2 separate regions of the Homo sapiens genome follow, and region 1 is linked to region 2. Evidence: fine-mapped expression QTL. Tissue or cell type: whole blood. Region 2 holds a variant in brackets; the other region holds the start of a gene. All regions are shown on one strand. Distances are from middle to middle.

Evidence for each region. PIP is the estimated chance that this variant, and not a neighbour inherited with it, causes the effect.
Region 1: RAB20 starts here. The variant in region 2 is fine-mapped to the expression of RAB20 in whole blood (TOPMed, PIP 0.97).

The regions. Positions count from the first base shown.
Region 1 is chr13:110,557,464-110,565,559 of GRCh38, forward strand. It overlaps RAB20 (RAB20, member RAS oncogene family), which reads right to left and starts at 4,259. Exons shown (of 2, transcript NM_017817.3): 1 at 3,885-4,259. The coding sequence starts at 4,056. RefSeq lists enhancers at 1-454, 455-977 and silencers at 3,819-3,878, 3,858-4,047, 3,939-4,388.
Region 2 is chr13:110,527,736-110,535,838 of GRCh38, forward strand. The region is part of intron 1 of RAB20 (RAB20, member RAS oncogene family); the gene reads right to left. Among named protein-coding and RNA genes, the nearest start is that of COL4A2-AS1, 24 kb to the left of the region's middle. RefSeq lists a silencer at 1-21 and enhancers at 3,023-3,639, 6,461-7,243. The variant G/A (reference allele first, on the strand shown) is at 3,861.

The DNA of each region.
Region 1 (8,096 bases), 30 kb after region 2:
CTGGAGAGGAGGCCCTGGTGTGGCCACATAACCTTCTGCTGGTGCCTCAGAAGGACCCAAAGGCCAGAGGACTCTCAAGAGACCAAGATGTCTCATCTTTGCGGTGGCCACTATTCTGTCTGTCACAGCCTGGCTTCAGGCTCCCACAGACGTGCATCCATTCCACATGCAAAATGCACTCACTCTCTCCAACACCCAGTCCCCAGAGACGCAGCTGGAGCTGGATGCCGGCACAGGGAAGTGGCGCAAGTCTGGGCTCCCCGCCGCCTTCCAAGCTGGCTCTTCAAGGGCCAGGTGCTGGGGATGCAAACGTGAGTCAGGTAATGCCCCTGCTCCCCCCGCCTCCCGGCCGCCAGGCCACGGCCTTTAGAAGGGAAGGAAAACAAATGTGGAGAGCATTCTGTCTCCAGGGCTCTGGGGACCAGGTCTGTGCTGGGCACACCAGCCGCTTTCTCATCAGCCTGTCGTATTTTCTTCAGAGCAACGATCAGATGTGAAGCTGTACCATTCACTTCTTGCCTGCCTTTCCCCCTCCTCTGGAATCCAGGGCCTGCGGGGCAGCGGCCAGCCGGCCTGCTCACTGCTGTAGAACGAGGGCCCAAACAGTGCCCGGCACCGGGGAGCCTCAGTTTATATTTGCCAACAACAGGCAACACCACTTTAGGCTGTCCTGAGCAACCGGGCAACACAGAGGAGCACAGCAGTACGTCTTCTAGGGCTCTGCCTCCTCGCTGGGCAACCTCCTTTTGCTTCCTGGATGTACCCACCCATGCACAGCAACCACTCCACATCTGTGTGCCCAATTAGACAAGGGCTGGGAGTGGCAAGTGCCCCCTAAAAGGGCATAATGAGACAAGGTGAGTTGGAGTTGGATGAACCAAGGTCTAAATCCCACTTAACTTCTGCTGTCTTCCCACTTTTTTTTTTTTTTTTTTTTGAGACAGAGTCTTACTCTTGTCACCCAGGCTGGAGTGCAATGGCGCAATCTTGGCTCACTGCAACCTCCGCCTCCAGGGTTCAAGCGATTCTCCTGCCACAGCCTCCCAAGTAGCTAGGATTACAGGCGCCAGCCACCACACCCAGCTAATTTTTGTATTTTTAGTAGACACGGGTTCACCACATTAACCAGGCTGGTCTTGAACTCCTGACCTTAGGTGATCTGCCCGCCTCACCCTCCTAAAGTGCTGGGATTACAGGCATGAGCCACCGCGCAGCCCTGTCTTCCCATCTGTTTTTTTTTTTTTTTTTTTTTTTGAGACAGAGTCTCGCTCTGTCACCGGGTTGGAGTGCAGTGGCACAATCTTGGCTCACTGCAACCTCTGCCTCCTGGTTCAAGCGATTCTCCTGCCTCAGCCTCCCGAGTAGCTGGGACTACAGGTGTGCGCCACCACGCCCTGCTAACTTTTGTATGTTTAGTAGAGATGGGGTTTCACCATGTTAGCCAGGATGGTCTTGATCTCTTGACCTCGTGATCCACCCACCTCAGCCTCCCAAAGTGCTGGGATTACAGGCATGAGCCACCACGCCTGGCCCCATCTTTAACATGCAAATAATCACACCTCCCTCTGGAGGACTGTTGTGTCAATGGAATAGGGTAATGTACTTCTGCCCTGCCAACTCTCTTCCCCCTCTTCAGCTCCATCCACTGCCTGCCTTGCAGGCTACAAGCAGCCAGGCATTGGGTGTACACTGACCCCCATGCAATCGTTTTTACTATTAAACATCCTGTCGCCCTCTGCACACCTGCACCCCCACCCCAGCCCACCCTGCCTTGTGTGGCTAAAAGCAACTTTCAAAATGGTTCCTCCTCCGGCTGGTCCTTACCATTCTGCCTCGGTTATGACAATTACAACAAAAACAACTTGAAAAGCAATGTCTGTGGGGTGGAGAGAAAGTTTAGGAGCTCAGCAAAAGAAGGAAAAGAACAGGGTCCCCTAAATGTTAAATTCTGAATTTCCAACAATTATAGAAAAGGTATCTGTTCCTACCTCTCTTTTCCCTTCAAGTACCCGGTCAGGCCACAGGCCACCGAGGAGGCAGGCAAGGGTGCCCTGTGTCCCTGCCAACTCTGGGCAAGGGCCGCCTGAGTGTGTACACAGGAAGTCAGGAATGTGGAGAAGGGGCCTGGCCACTCTCTGTTCTGAGGAGCTCTAGTAATTCACCCTTAGGATCTTTCGAACAAGCAGCAGCAGCCTCGGATGCCAGGAAATGAGCTGCTGCCCCCCAGTAACGCTTCAAGACATCTGGGGCGTCACATCAGCACAACTGCAAAATCTCTGGTGATCAGGATTCCGGCTGCATCACGTCCTTGGTGCTGAAGAAGCAAGAGGCCAGTGGAAACGAAACTGCTGCTTCATTCCCTCCGATGCAGGGGCCGTTCCAGCACTGCAGGGCAGCTCTTGTTCCAGAAACACACCGTGTGTTAAGAGTCTGCCTCCAACGGTGGCCACTACAGGGGTTTCGGTTAGGGTCCCCCAATAACACTCCTGCATTAACCTTGCTACTTGTAAACCAAGGGCAGCAGTAAATCCCAGCCAACCAGCAAAAGCAGCAGAGGGGCAAAGCTTTGTACAAAACCAAATTGGGTTCAATTTGACTTTGTACAGAAGCAAATTGGGTTCGTGAATTGGGTTCGATTTGACTTCTAGAGCGTGTGTTCCATCGTTACCAAATGCTCAGTGTGAGGGAGTCAGCTCAGTAAACCTCATCCTGCAGCCTGAGGCAGAAGACAGAGTTGGAGCAAAGATCAGGGAAATGCACCTCTTTACCTGGGGGACATTGTTTTCACAAGATGATTGCCAATAAATTAGTCACGATGTTAACTGGGATAATAATAAAAAAGCATCAAAGAAGGCAAAAGGGAGGGGGAGAACTGGAAGTACCTCTGTGAGCTTCGTTAATTCAGTTTTAAAGAGAGAATTCATTATCATCTTGTTTATTCAGCATACTGATACACCCAAGATGGCAATTTAAGAATTCTGGACGGGGCCTTTGGGTATATGACTTTTTAAGATGCTAACATAAAAGAAGTCAGAACTTTCAGAGTTTCAGGCTTCTAAAAACTCACACTCATTGAAAATGTGTCACACTATTTCCAGTTTCTTCATTCACTTACAATATCTTATTCTTTTGTAAGGAGAAGGAAATATATTCCATTGCAATGCTACAATCACCAGTGTTATTTTCCAAAGTTAAACAGAAAGCCTGAATTGAGATCCTCTAAGTTGTACTTTTGAAAAGTCACAAATACTACACAATAAAAATAACTCATTACCTATCTTAAAAATGCTTCCACCGGAAGTCACTCCAACCCAAACCCATATGACGTATCTGAGCCAAGATCAAGCAGAAGATTAACTGTAAAAGGCAGATATGCTCCGGGCTAAGAGGTCCGGAGGCTCCAGTTTTATTTCCTCTCTCCTGACTAAACCCAACAGGGGGGAACACTCTGTGCCTCATTTTACTTTTTCTTAGAAAGGGGCTAATAACACCAGCTCTGCTCACCCCTCAAGTGAATCTCAAAGGATATCATGTTCCTACGGGTACGTGAAAACTGAAAATACCTAACAAAGCAGCCACAGAGGAGCGTCTCTGGTTCCCAGGGCGGCAGAGCAGGAACGCGGGGCTCGGGAGCAAAGGCAGCTTAGGTACACAAATGACCAGCGGGTTCTCTGCAACTTGGGTTGTCCCTGAGGTCACTGAGTGGCTGAGAGGCAGCGCTCAGCCCAACCAGCAAGGGAGGACGAGTGGGAAACCCCGAGAAGGAGGCATTTGCTGTCCGAGGCCGGGACCCTGTGCGCGGCCGGGTGCCCTGCTGGAAGCCCCGCGCCCCCCGTCCCCGGCGGAGCCCCAGGGCGGTGTGGCTCATGCGGCGCCGGCCTCACCTGCGGTGTCCCAGATGGAGATGTTGTAGGAGCGCCACTGCTTCAGGTAGAAGGCGCCGCCCACCGTGCTGACCGTGTCCGGGAAGCGCCGCTCCATATACCGCTGCAGCAGCGACGTCTTCCCCACGTTCATGTCCCCCAGGAGCACGATCTTGCTGTCGGGCTTCCTCATCTTCCCGTAAGAACCCCCAGCGCCCCCGCGCCCTCTCCCCGAGGCTGGCCGGCTCGTGCGCCCTGGGCGCAGCTGGAGGAGCGGACCCCGGACTCGCCGGGACCCGGATTCTCGTGAACGCTCCGGGACCTTCGCCTCCGGACGCCCGGGAGCTCAAGAGAGGAAGCGCGTGTGCGCGCCCGGGAAGGAGCTGGGTGCAGAGCACGGAGCCCACGTCGGGGGCCCGGACCGCGGCGGCCTCGCCTCGCCCCGCCCCCGCCCCCGCCCCCGGGCCCTTTCACCGCCGCGGCCCCGCCCTATCCTCCTCCGCCCACCGCCCCCGTCCCGCCCCTGCTGGACCTCGCCGTTTCGCAAGCATCCGAGTTCTCCAGCCGAGGCTCGGGACTGCTGCAGGGTGGAAAATGAAAGTTCTGAGAGCACCTTCCGCCCCTCCGCTTCTGCACAGCCGGGGCTGCGGTGCGAGGAGCTTGGCCGCGGGGCCCGAACGAGGCGAAGGGGCCGGGGCCCTTGGGGAACCCCCTTCTCTCTTCCACTCTCCCTTAGGTAAAACCCGTGTTCCTCTCACGCTCGACCCAGCGCCTTTCCAGCTGCGGTCGATTTGCTTCTCCGCGTGTAAGTACAGCCACCCTCAAGGTCATTGAAAAAGTTTGCTTTAAATGAGCGTCTGCGGAACTCGTCCTGAGGCTCTCACTGTTACAGATTAGAGATGGGGGCGCTTTCTAGTGGAGGATTTTGCTTTTGCTCTTCTACTTTTGCAAGAAGCTTTTTGTCCTGAAAAGTGGACAGTCATCTCCATTTATAGCTTGGAATGAAAATTTGACTATGGAAGTTGCAGTCGCTACTTGAGAAATATTTCCTCCTTCTTTTTTTTTTTTTTTTTTTATTTTTGACACGGAGTTTTGCTGTTGTTGCCCAAGCTGGAGAGCAGTGCGCGATCTCGGCTCACTGCAACCTCCGCCTTCCGGTTTCAAGCGATTCTCCTGCCTCAGCCTCCCGAGTAGGCGGGATTACAGGTATGTGCCACCATGCCCGGCTAATTTTTGTATTTTTAGTAGACACGGGGTTTCACCATGTTGGCCAGGCTGGTCTCGAACTCCTGACCTCGTGATCCACCCGCTTCGGCCTCCCAGGTCCTCCTTCCGTTTTAAAGGATAAACCTTGAAATGCTTTTAAAATATGCAGCGTGTAGAATTTGGTTAGTTGGTTGGTTGGGGTTTTTTAGAGAAAATGAGAGGTAGAATGGACTCTAAGTTAAACCCTGGGGGACAGTGTCACTCTGGCCGCTGGCCTGGCTGGGAAAGGCGATGAGACCCTGAGCAGGTTAAAACCCGTGTCCTGAAGGTGTCCTGTAAAGGGAAATAGGCCCGTTGCCTCCTTCGTAGGTGCCCTGAGACTCCGACAAGGCAGGAATGCCAAGGTATTTCGTACCTGCTCAGCCCTGGCATGTCAGGTTGCTGAGACCGAGCAGTGTGGGGCTGAGGTGGAAGCGGACCTTCTGGGGCGTGGAAAGCGCACCAGGAGACCCCGGCTCCTTCTCAGCCAGCACTGCCTCATCCTCAGAACAAATTTAAGTCAATTCAGCATTTATTCAATGCCTGTTGCATGCAAGTGACAACCTAAATAACAGAGAGGATCTCTAAAAGAAACAGATATTTATTTTGCAATAGAGCTTTGCAGTAGAAATATGCATGCCATGGTAAACTTGTGCATATTCAGAGAGGCAAGGAAAGCAAAGGCTTTAAAAAAAATGAGGCGGATTGCACAATTGTTTGAAAATAATTATCTGTGGCTACAAAGATCCATAACGAAGGCGATGCCAGTTCAAAGTAGGACAGCCAGTGGCTGGGCCATGTCCTTGCAGGACTAGTTTTTTGTGGGAGATTGCAGTGGCCTTTGTGCAAGGTTGCGGTTTTTCCAGAGAGTCCTTTTTGTTATCAGGCATGCACGCGCAAGAACCCTCTCTTCATGGCCTTCCCCGGCTCTGTTTGTCAGGGTTTTCTTAACATTAGCGGCTCCATTTCGATTCTGACAATTTTCACACAAGCTACAGTGCCTGGCCTGGGACGACACAAACATGAGTCAGGTTTGGTGCCTGTTGGCCAGGCGCAGTGGCACACACCTGTAATCCCACCACTCTGAGAGGCCGAGGCAGATGGATCCTTTGAGCCCAGGAGTTCAAGATTAGCCTGGCAACATAGGGAGACCCCCGTCTCTATGAAAATTACAGAAAAAATTTGCCATGCATGGTGGTGTGCACCTGTAGTCCTAGTCCAAAGTTGCTTTGACTATTCTGGAACATTTACACTTCCATATGAATTCTGGAATCAATGTATCTAACCTCAGGAAACACATTAATGACATATATAGTTAAATTTAGGAAGAGTGGATATCTTTATAATATTAAAATGTCCCATTTATGAACATGGTATACCTCTCCATTTATTCAGCGGGTGTTCAAGGCTCACCTAGAATTTTTACACTTCTTTCTACTTTTTTACCATCAGGAAGTTTAATCACTTCCTGGAGCATGCTTTTTGATTCTCCAAATTTTACCCCCTGTCTGCTTCTCTCACCTGAGCTCTTTGTCCATTTCTTCATCCACCTACTAAGCCTTTCTACATGGATGTCTCAATATGGCAACCCACCACATCGTTCATCTGCCCTTCTGTAAATGCAGAGTCATTCATTCTTTCACCTTCTTTATAACCATATCCAATTCATCACCAAGCCCAATGGATTTTCCCTTCTAAATAAATCCCTCTAACATCTTCTCTCTCTTTTCCCACAGACGCCCACTTGTCTGGAACCTTCTTACACCTAAATAGTTAGAATCCACTCCTATTTGGTCTCCTTAACTCCAAGCTCCTGCCGTCCCAATCACTGTCAGACTAACCTTTCATAACCACTGCTTTCTCTACCCAGAGACCTGCCACGGCTCCCTACTTTCTATCTCCACAAGTCCAAATCCTGCCCCCCGCCACACACACACACACACACTTACCACCCTTTTTACAGTAGCTCTCCCGCCTCCTTTAGCTCCTGTTGCCCTGTGTGTGGCTTATTTACAGGTTTGATGGTGCAGTTTCCTTCTCTAGGGTGTTAGCTCCATGGGGAAGCAGCTTCTTCTGTGTTGTTCACCACTGTGCCTGGTGAACACCACTGCACCTAGCACACAATGGGCACTGAAGAAGGCACTGAGTCGCAGAAGAATGAATGAATTCCCCTCCCTGGTGAGGCCAGAAGCAACATCCTGTAAGCATATCATGACCAGCTATTCTCCACTTCATTGCTCACTGAGTTTGCCCACTTGAAAAGCCCTCCAACCCCTCATCTGTGCAGGTTTGGAATTCTGTGCAGGACTCAGGGATTCCATGAGGTGCAGCCCAGGCACACCCCCTTCTAATCCTCTCCCTCTGGGGAGACCTTTCCTGCTCCTTCATATGAGTTTCTACCACCCTGCTGGCCTCTTCGATGCAGTTTAGCCCCTGACAATGACTAACGGACTCATTTGACTCTCATCATCTCTAGTAATTTAAAAATTCCCTAGGGTCAGGGAGCAGGTCCTAACCTCATTCAACACCTCACCCAGTGCCTTGTCCCTTTCTCAGCACATTCTTCTACTCAGTAAATGTTTGAAGAAGCCTCATGAGGGCAGGAATCTTTGTGTTTTGTTTCTCTTATGTCTCCCAAGTACCTGGCCCTGGAAGGCAATTGATGCTCAATCAATACACATTTTAATAAATTCGCTAGTGAACTGAAACACCACCTGAAACACTGCTGCTTTTAGAGTTTGTGGAGGGAGGGACTGTTCCCTGCACCTACCCCAGTGACTGGCACCTGGAATTCACCGAGCAAGTTGGTTGAAAAAGTTAAAGGAATTTTCCAGCACTTTGAAAACTAAACCAAGAGAATGTCTCCATATCAAATTTCAGCCACTCCTTATAAAAATGTCTTAAAGGCTGTAAATCACCGTATTCACCTGCAGGAAGCAGTGTTGAGGAAGGAGGTAGTATAGGGTTAAGGGTCTATTTAAACCAGCT
Region 2 (8,103 bases):
ATCCACAGTCATTCTCCCACTACAGAAGATGATGATCAAAAGCCTTTAAAACCCAATACAGCAGGCATTAGCTTCAAAAAGAACAGGCTAGGGCAGGAGGATTGCTTGAGGCCAGGAGTTGGAGCCCAGCTTGGGCAGCATAGCAAGGCTCCTATCTCTACAAATACACACACACACACACACACACACACACACACACACACACACATACACTTTAATTAGCCAGGCATGGTGACGCATGCCTGTAGTCCCAGCTACTCGGGAGGCTGAGGAGGGAAGACTGCTTGAGCCAAGGAGTTCGAGGCTGCAATAAGCTATGATCATGCCACTGCACTCCAGCCTGAGCAACAGTGAGACCCCATATCTAAAATAAATTTAAAATGGTAATAATAAAGGAAAGAAAAAGGCCGGAGACTCATGCCTGGAATCCCAGCACTTTGGGACGCCGGGGTGGGCGGATCACCTGAGTTCGGGAGTTCGAGACCAGCCTGACCAACGCAGAGAAAACCCATCTCTACTAAAAATACAAAATTAGCCAGGCATGGTGGCATGTGCCTATAATCCCAGCTACTTGGGAGGCTGAGGCAGGAGAACTGCTTGAACCTGGGAGGCGGAGGTTGCGGTGAGCTGAGATAGCGCCACTGCACTCCAGCCTGGGCAAGAGTGAAACTCCATCTCAAAAAAAAAAAAAACAAAAAACAGAAAAGAAAGAAAAATGCTTCTTCGTCATTACCACAGTACTAAGACTTTTGTTTCAGGGACACTAATCCCATAGATAACAGTCCAGGCATCATGAGGTTTTTACATGAGCTAAAAACGTCATCAGCTTCTACCCACCAGATTTCACAAGAGTGTGACTATGGGAATGCGGAGTCAGGGGCACTCCAGCTACCCTGGAAGAATGGTTTTCAAGTCTCTGTTACATAGTTCACTAGGGCCAAAGGGAGAACCGTGTTGATGCCTATGCCTAAAATAGTTTTCCATTCCAGATAAAAATGCCTGATTTGCCTTTAAAAAACTAAAAAAGGAAATAATAATATAAAAGGAAAGATCTTAGTAATGAAAGGAAACAGGAACTGAAGAATCACAAATGCTAGCCAGAAAAAAGTAAGAATTGTTGCTTGAACCCTATAATCTGTTATCTACCCATTAATGAATGCAAACCAATTAAATGCAGTTGCCCCAGCTAAAGAATTTACAAGCAAGCAGTTTTCATATTTGAAATTCTAAAATACTGCTTTGGAGATAATGTATAGCTTTTAGGATTGCTAATGGAAGAGTCAGGCTGCTCTCAATGAGCGCATTGTCCACACCAAGAAGGGCCAGTCCCGCAGGGAACAGAAGTTCTGAATTTAATCCTAATTGAATTTGAGTAGGGGCTCTGGTATGTAAGGCATGAGAGTGAACATAAGACAATGAAAATAAAATGGTGTCACTACAACTTGACCTTTTGCACTTGGCTTTGACAGATTCACAGTGTATTTGAATCCAAGGACCCTCACGCGTTTTCTGGAAGTTTGTGAATGTGCTCTGAGCCGGGCCGTCAGCCCCCTGCTGCCAACCCCATACACATGTCAGCCCCTGTATCTCTCAGAATATTGATTTCCTGTCTACAAGTATGGGCTTAAACTGAGTACTTCAAAGTCCCTCTCCCTGGAAACAGGATCAGGCATCTCTATCTCTATTGCCTTCTCCCCCAGACCGGAGTCCGTCAGTACCAATCGTGAAGCCAAAGCACTGAGAGTTCTGGTGGTTTACCTGGACTTTCCTGGAGAAATAAACAGCCTCAGGTCCAATTCTGGGGATGCCAGAGCCCCAGGCTGCCCCAGAAACAGGGCAAAAGAGAAAAATCACAAATTGGTTCAAATTCAACCAATGCAGCCAAGGGTCAGTGAGCTGCCAACCCTGGTCTGGTGAACGGAGCCAGGCTGCCGAGCCTGTGTGGCCACTACCAACACGGGCCTGACATCATCAGGGCTGGGGGCACGGGTTCAAGCCTGAGGAAGGAGCCCAGCCTTCCGCCAGACTCTCCCGCCTTTTTGCCTGGGCTGTCTCCAGGCCAAGCAGACGGGAGGATGGGTGAGTGACCGGAGCCTGGGGCTCTAGGTTCGACTTGTCCAGGAATTATTACTCGTCTATGTAGCAAATCCGTAAGTGATCTGCTCAGCTTTATGTCACCAACACATACAGACGAAGAGGTCAATTACCCCTGGTGGTGAGGGAAACCTGAATCTGTAAGAACGCCTCCAATGTCTGATCAGCCACACTGTTGGACAAACTACTGAAATGCAGCAAAACTGACCAGGACTTTAACCGTGAGTTCAGAGCAGCCAGAAATGAAGACGCCCTGCTCACTGCAGACAGGGCCCTGGGGAGGCAGGTCCCACCACCCCACCTCTACACAGACACAGGGCCCCGGGGAGGCAGGTCCCACCACCCCACCTCTACACAGACACAGGGCCCCGGGGAGGCAGGTCCCACCCGCCCCACCTCTACGCAGACACAGGGCCCCGGGGAGGCAGGTCCCACCCGCCCCACCTCTACGCAGACACAGGGCCCCGGGGAGGCAGGTCCCACCCGCCCCACCTCTACGCAGACACAGGGCCCCGGGGAGGCAGGTCCCACCCGCCCCACCTCTACGCAGACACAGGGCCCCGGGGAGGCAGGTCCCACCCGCCCCACCTCTACGCAGACACAGGGCCCTAGGGAAGTAGGTCCCACCCGCCCCACCTCTACACAGACACAGGACCCTGGGGAAGTAGGTCCCACCCGCCCCACCTCTACACAGACACAGGACCCTGGGGAAGTAGGTCCCACCCGCCCCACCTCTACACAGACACAGGACCCTGGGGAAGTAGGTCCCACCCGCCCCACCTCTACAGACACAGGACCCTGGGGAAGTAGGTCCCACCCGCCCCACCTCTACACAGACACAGGACCCTGGGGAAGTAGGTCCCACCCGCCCCACCTCTACGCAGACACAGGGCCCTAGGGAAGTAGGTCCCACCCGCTCCACCTCTACACAGACACAGGACCCTGGGGAAGTAGGTCCCACCCACCCCACCTCTACACAGACACAGGGCCCTCAGGAGGCAGGTCCCACCAGGTTTGTTTCTCGAATTTACAGATCTAAAAACACAATTGTGTCTGTTCACCTAAAGAGCTAATTCCACTCACTTTATGAGGTTTAAGTTCTGTCTAAACAAGAGAAATGGAAGCCAGAACAGGACTTCGTAATTTATAGCAGGGAATGAGCTGTTAACTTCCACGATCCCGTCCTGTATCAAGGATAGGAAGCGCTGCATTAGCTATGGGAAGAAGCATGGCCAGCACAGTGTGAGTCCTCAGGGTTTATTATGCTCGTGCAGGCTTCCCTTTCCCATGTTTTACAGGAGGAGGAACTGAGGCACAGATGGAGAAGGAGGTGGGCAACAGACACAGGAGCGGTGGAGCCCTGAGAAGCACGCTGGCAACAGGCACCCCAGGGAGTCTGGTCTAACCACCCCCAGAGGCAGAGGAAGGGGCCTAGGGCCCCTTTGAGGTGGGCTGCTGGGCAGGAGAAAAGCCTGCCTCCACCCTGTGATCCCACAGAGCACAGGCATTTGCAGAATGCAGCCACCTTCCCAGGAGCTCCAAATTTTACGCAGAGAACTATCCTGGAAGTGCCGGCTAATTCGCTGGGCAGGGACTGCAGAGCGTTCTGGTAAACAGCCCCCACTCTAGAGACAGACTACATTCAAATCCCCACCGTGTGACCTTGGGCAAGTCACTTAGACATGCGGTACCTCAGTTTCCCCGTCACTAAAATGTGGGTTACACCTGCCAAAGGGTGGCTGAGAAAGCAGAATCTGCACACAGGT[G/A]AACTGGCTGGAGCTGCACCCAGCACATTAGGCCCTGTAATAGAAGTGCTTGTTCCATAAATCGTGAGATTCCTCCCAAACCTAAGGATGGATGCCACCGTCCCAGGGCTGCCCATGTCCCGGGTCTCATCATCCCTCCATTTACACACCACCTCCTGGGGCCGACTGGGCGCTTTTGCAGTGGACCAATCTTCTACGTTTCTTATTCTCAGATGATGACCTTCTCCCTGGTCCTGGGGGTGCTCCGGATGTTGCCAGATCAGTGGAGCTGACATGGCCCAGGGTTCAGGCAGAAGGGGAAGGGAAGTCAGCACCCACAGTAATCCTGATTCACTGTTGCGGAACCAAAAACTGCCCAAGTGCTTTCCATTTCACTCTTCAGCCTTCCCAAAGCCAAACACAGCCAGGCTTCTACCCCAAGTGTTGTGTCGTTTTCACTATTGGTTTAAATAAGAGTGGGTTGAGATAGCCATCAGAAGCCACGGACACCCTTGGCTCACATCTTAAGCATGGGGTGGGGAGACTTAAAAAATACTGATGCTCAGACCCTGACCCAGCTGCCAGGGCAAGAGTGGGGCTGGCATTTGTATCAGCTTTAAAAGCGCCCCAGGTGAATACCAGGTGCACCAGGAGTGAAAATCAGCAATTTACCCAGTGAAAGTGGGAAATAAAAGGGCAGCTATTGAAATGTAAGAATTAGAAAGCTTGGTATTTCAATTCATTGAAAAGTGAGCCCTACCAGGAAATGCAAACACTGAGACAACAGGAACTTTCATTATTTATTTATTTACTTTTTCTTGAGACAGAGTCTTGCTCTGTTGCCCAGGCTGGAGTGCAGTGATGCAATCTCAGCTCACTGCAAACTCCACGTCCAGGGTTCAAGCAATTCTCCTGCCTAAGCCTCCCTAGTAGCTGGGATTACAGGCACACACCACCAAGCCCAGCTAATTTTTGTACTATTAGTAGGGACAGGGTTTCACCATGTTGGCCAGGCTGGTCTCAAACTCCTGACCTCAAGTGATCCACCCACCTTGGACTCCCAAAATGCTGGGATTACAGGCGCGAGGCACCACGCCCAGCCTATTTAATTATTATTTTTTTGAGACAGAGTCTTGCTCTGTCACCCAGGCTGAAGTGCAGTGGTACGATCATGGCTCAATGCAGCCTCCATCTTCTGGGCTTAAGTGTTCCTCCCAACTCAGCCTCCCGAGTAGCTGGGACCACAGGTGCATACCACTACACCCAGCTAATTTCTTTTATGTTTGTGTAGAGATGGGGACTTACTATGCTACCCAGGCTGGTCTTGAACTCCTGGGTTCATGCTATATTCCCAACTTGGCCTCCCAAAGTGCTGGGGTCACAGGCATGAGCCACTGTGCCCAGCGGAGAACAGAAACTTTTAAGATGAGTTCTCTGCCTTGCCAGATCGGACAGCCCCCTGGCAGGGAGCTCACAAAACATCGATGTGACAACCTGAGGAAAGGAAAAGTGCATATTCCCAGACCAGAGATGGGAGCAAAATAAGCAACTCCAGCAATGGCACCAGCAGCAGCGCAGCCTAGAGGAGCTGTGACACACTTCCCATCAGAGATTGTTCAAAAACACCACGACATGCTTTCTCCAGTGTTTGCAGGTTGCATCCACAAATACGAGCCAAAAGGTTATTTTAGTTCTATTTTGTAAAGTTGATGAGTTTTGGCTAAAGTTGAGAGTCATGGGACCATCTCCACAGGCATGATCTACATTCCCTCTAGGTTTGTTTTTTTAAAACCGATAGTGAACTTGGTTAAATAATGGTGCGTGGAGGCCAGGCACAGTGGTTCATACCTGTAATCCTAGCACTTCAGAAGGCTGATGTGGGAGGATCCCTTGAGCCCCTGAGTTTGAGACCAGCCTGGGTGACACAGTGAGTCCCTATCTCTACAAAAAAAAATTTAAAAATGAGCTGGGTATGATGGTATGTGCCTGTAGTCCCAGCTACTCTGAGGAGGCTGAGGCAGGAGGATCGCTTAAGCCCAGGAGGTTGGGCTGCAGTGAGCTGGGATACTGCCACTGCACTCTAGCCCGGGCAGCAGAGCAAGACCCTATCTCAAAAAGAGAGAATGGGATGTGGAAGCAACCATCCCCTCAGGAGCATTAGAAAAGAATAAATAATTGACTACTATAACCAACACTGTATTCAATTGTTTGTTGATTTTAGTGCAGTAAGGAAGGCCCACAAGAGTCCCTGGGTGCATGAATGGAGCTGGGCTGCCTGGAGCCAGCACAGGGCCTGGCTGGACACACCTGCCCCCACCAGTACGTGGAAAGTGGAGAGCTAGCAGGCAAGGGCCCCACGCAGTGGGCAGGCCCTCCCCCCAGAACCCACATGCACCAAAGCCTCCAGAGAGCCAATGGCTTGCCAGCCTCCACCCACCGTGATGGGGAACTGTATCTGGTCGGGCCCCGGTGCCCAGCAGTTTGGTCCTGCACTAGCCTGGACATGGCTGGGAAGGTGTTTTTTAGGTGGGATCAGCATTTACATCAGTGGATGTGAGAAAGCAGACAGTGCTCTGTGATGTGGTAGGCCTCGTCTAATCAGCTGATGGCCTGAGAAGTAAAGACTGAGCTCTTCCAGACACGAAGGAATTCAGCCCCCAGACAGCAACAAAGCAACCTTGCCTGAGCTCACACACCCTCTGTCAGGTCTGTTTCTCTGGGGAAGCCTGGCTGCCTTATTCACGTGGACTGCTCACTTGCTTCCCTGGGATGGAGGCTGTCTGCAAAGCTGAGGCTCTCCAGAGAGGCCTGTACAGCTCCCCCATTTTCAGGCTGTCCCCTGAGGCCGAGCCCCTACAAAGAGGTGCTGCCACCGTGATGTACGAGTGTGCCGGTCAAGGGTGCCGACCACGCCCCGACCCCTGCCTTGCCCCTCAGCCAAACAAATGTCCAGGGCAGGGGAAGTGGCATGACAGGGGCTTTTCAGAAAACTGCAAGGATCACTTTGACCCAAACTGGTCACTTCTTCATTGAGGGTTCCTTGCCCGGGCAGTTATCTTTCCAAATGCTGATCCAATATGAACACCCTCTACTGTGCACCCCAGGGGGCTTCCTAGCAGGCTTCAAAAGAGTGTGAACTCCACAAAACTGGACCTCATCATAAATGCACAAGTCCTCTCCTGCCAGCTGTTCAGCAACTAAACAGTAAAATAGGAAAAATATGATTTCCAAAACGAAGAGCAGAAGACATATCCAGCAATATTTTTTTGTGGAAACAGAGACAGGGTCTCGCTCTGTCACCCAGGCTGGAGTGCAGTGGCTCAATCATGGCTCACTGCAACCTCATCCTCCTGGGCTCAAGCGATCCTCCCACCTCAGCCTCCCAAGCAGGTGGGACTACAGGTGTGTACCACCACGCCTGGCTAATTTTTTAATTTTTAGTAGAGATGAGGTCTCACTAAGTTGCCCAGCCTGGTCTCAAACTCCTGAGCTCAAGTGATCCCCCCGCTTTGCCCTTCTAAAGTGCTGGGATTACAGGCCTGAGCCACCACGCCCAGCCCAGGAACATCTTTTACTGGCAGAGATGGAGAATGTAGTGAGAAATTTAAATTCAGAATTCTTCCTCATTTTGAAAAGCACACATCTCACCTAGAACTAGCCACATCTCTAAGTCCAAGCCACGTGTGGCCAGTGGCTACCATGCTGGATGGCACAGAGCAGACTCTGCTCAGAGCCGGAGACCCCCAACCCGAACCCACCCTGAACACCAGGTACAGTTCCTGGACCACAGCAGACACTCACGGGCTGCTTGGAACAGGCATGAAGGAGGCGTGAAGTTACAGAAACGAATAAATAACACATGAGGCTAATTCATACAACCACTTCGTGGGTCACGTCTTCATGGATCCTTAAACCACTCTGGGAAGTCTCTGTTTTCCATTTTCGCAGATCTACAAGTCAAGGCTCAGAGACTCTACTGGCGAGATTGGAACCCATTCCCTAGATTCCACCTCTCCTCCTCCTGCCTGCTCTGAGTGCCTCACAGCTTGGGCCCTTCCATTAAATGCCTGTGCAGTGACTAACTTTTCACAGGCAGCCGTGAAGCACCGCACACACCCGGCACGCTGGGCCCAGGCCTTCCACGCAGTGGCTGGCCCAGCGCCTCTGAGCGCCCACTGGACCACACCATGCTCTCAGCCCAGCAGCAGTACCCAAAGCTCCGGCCGCGCAAGGCCTTCCAACACAGAAATGGATTTCATTTCTC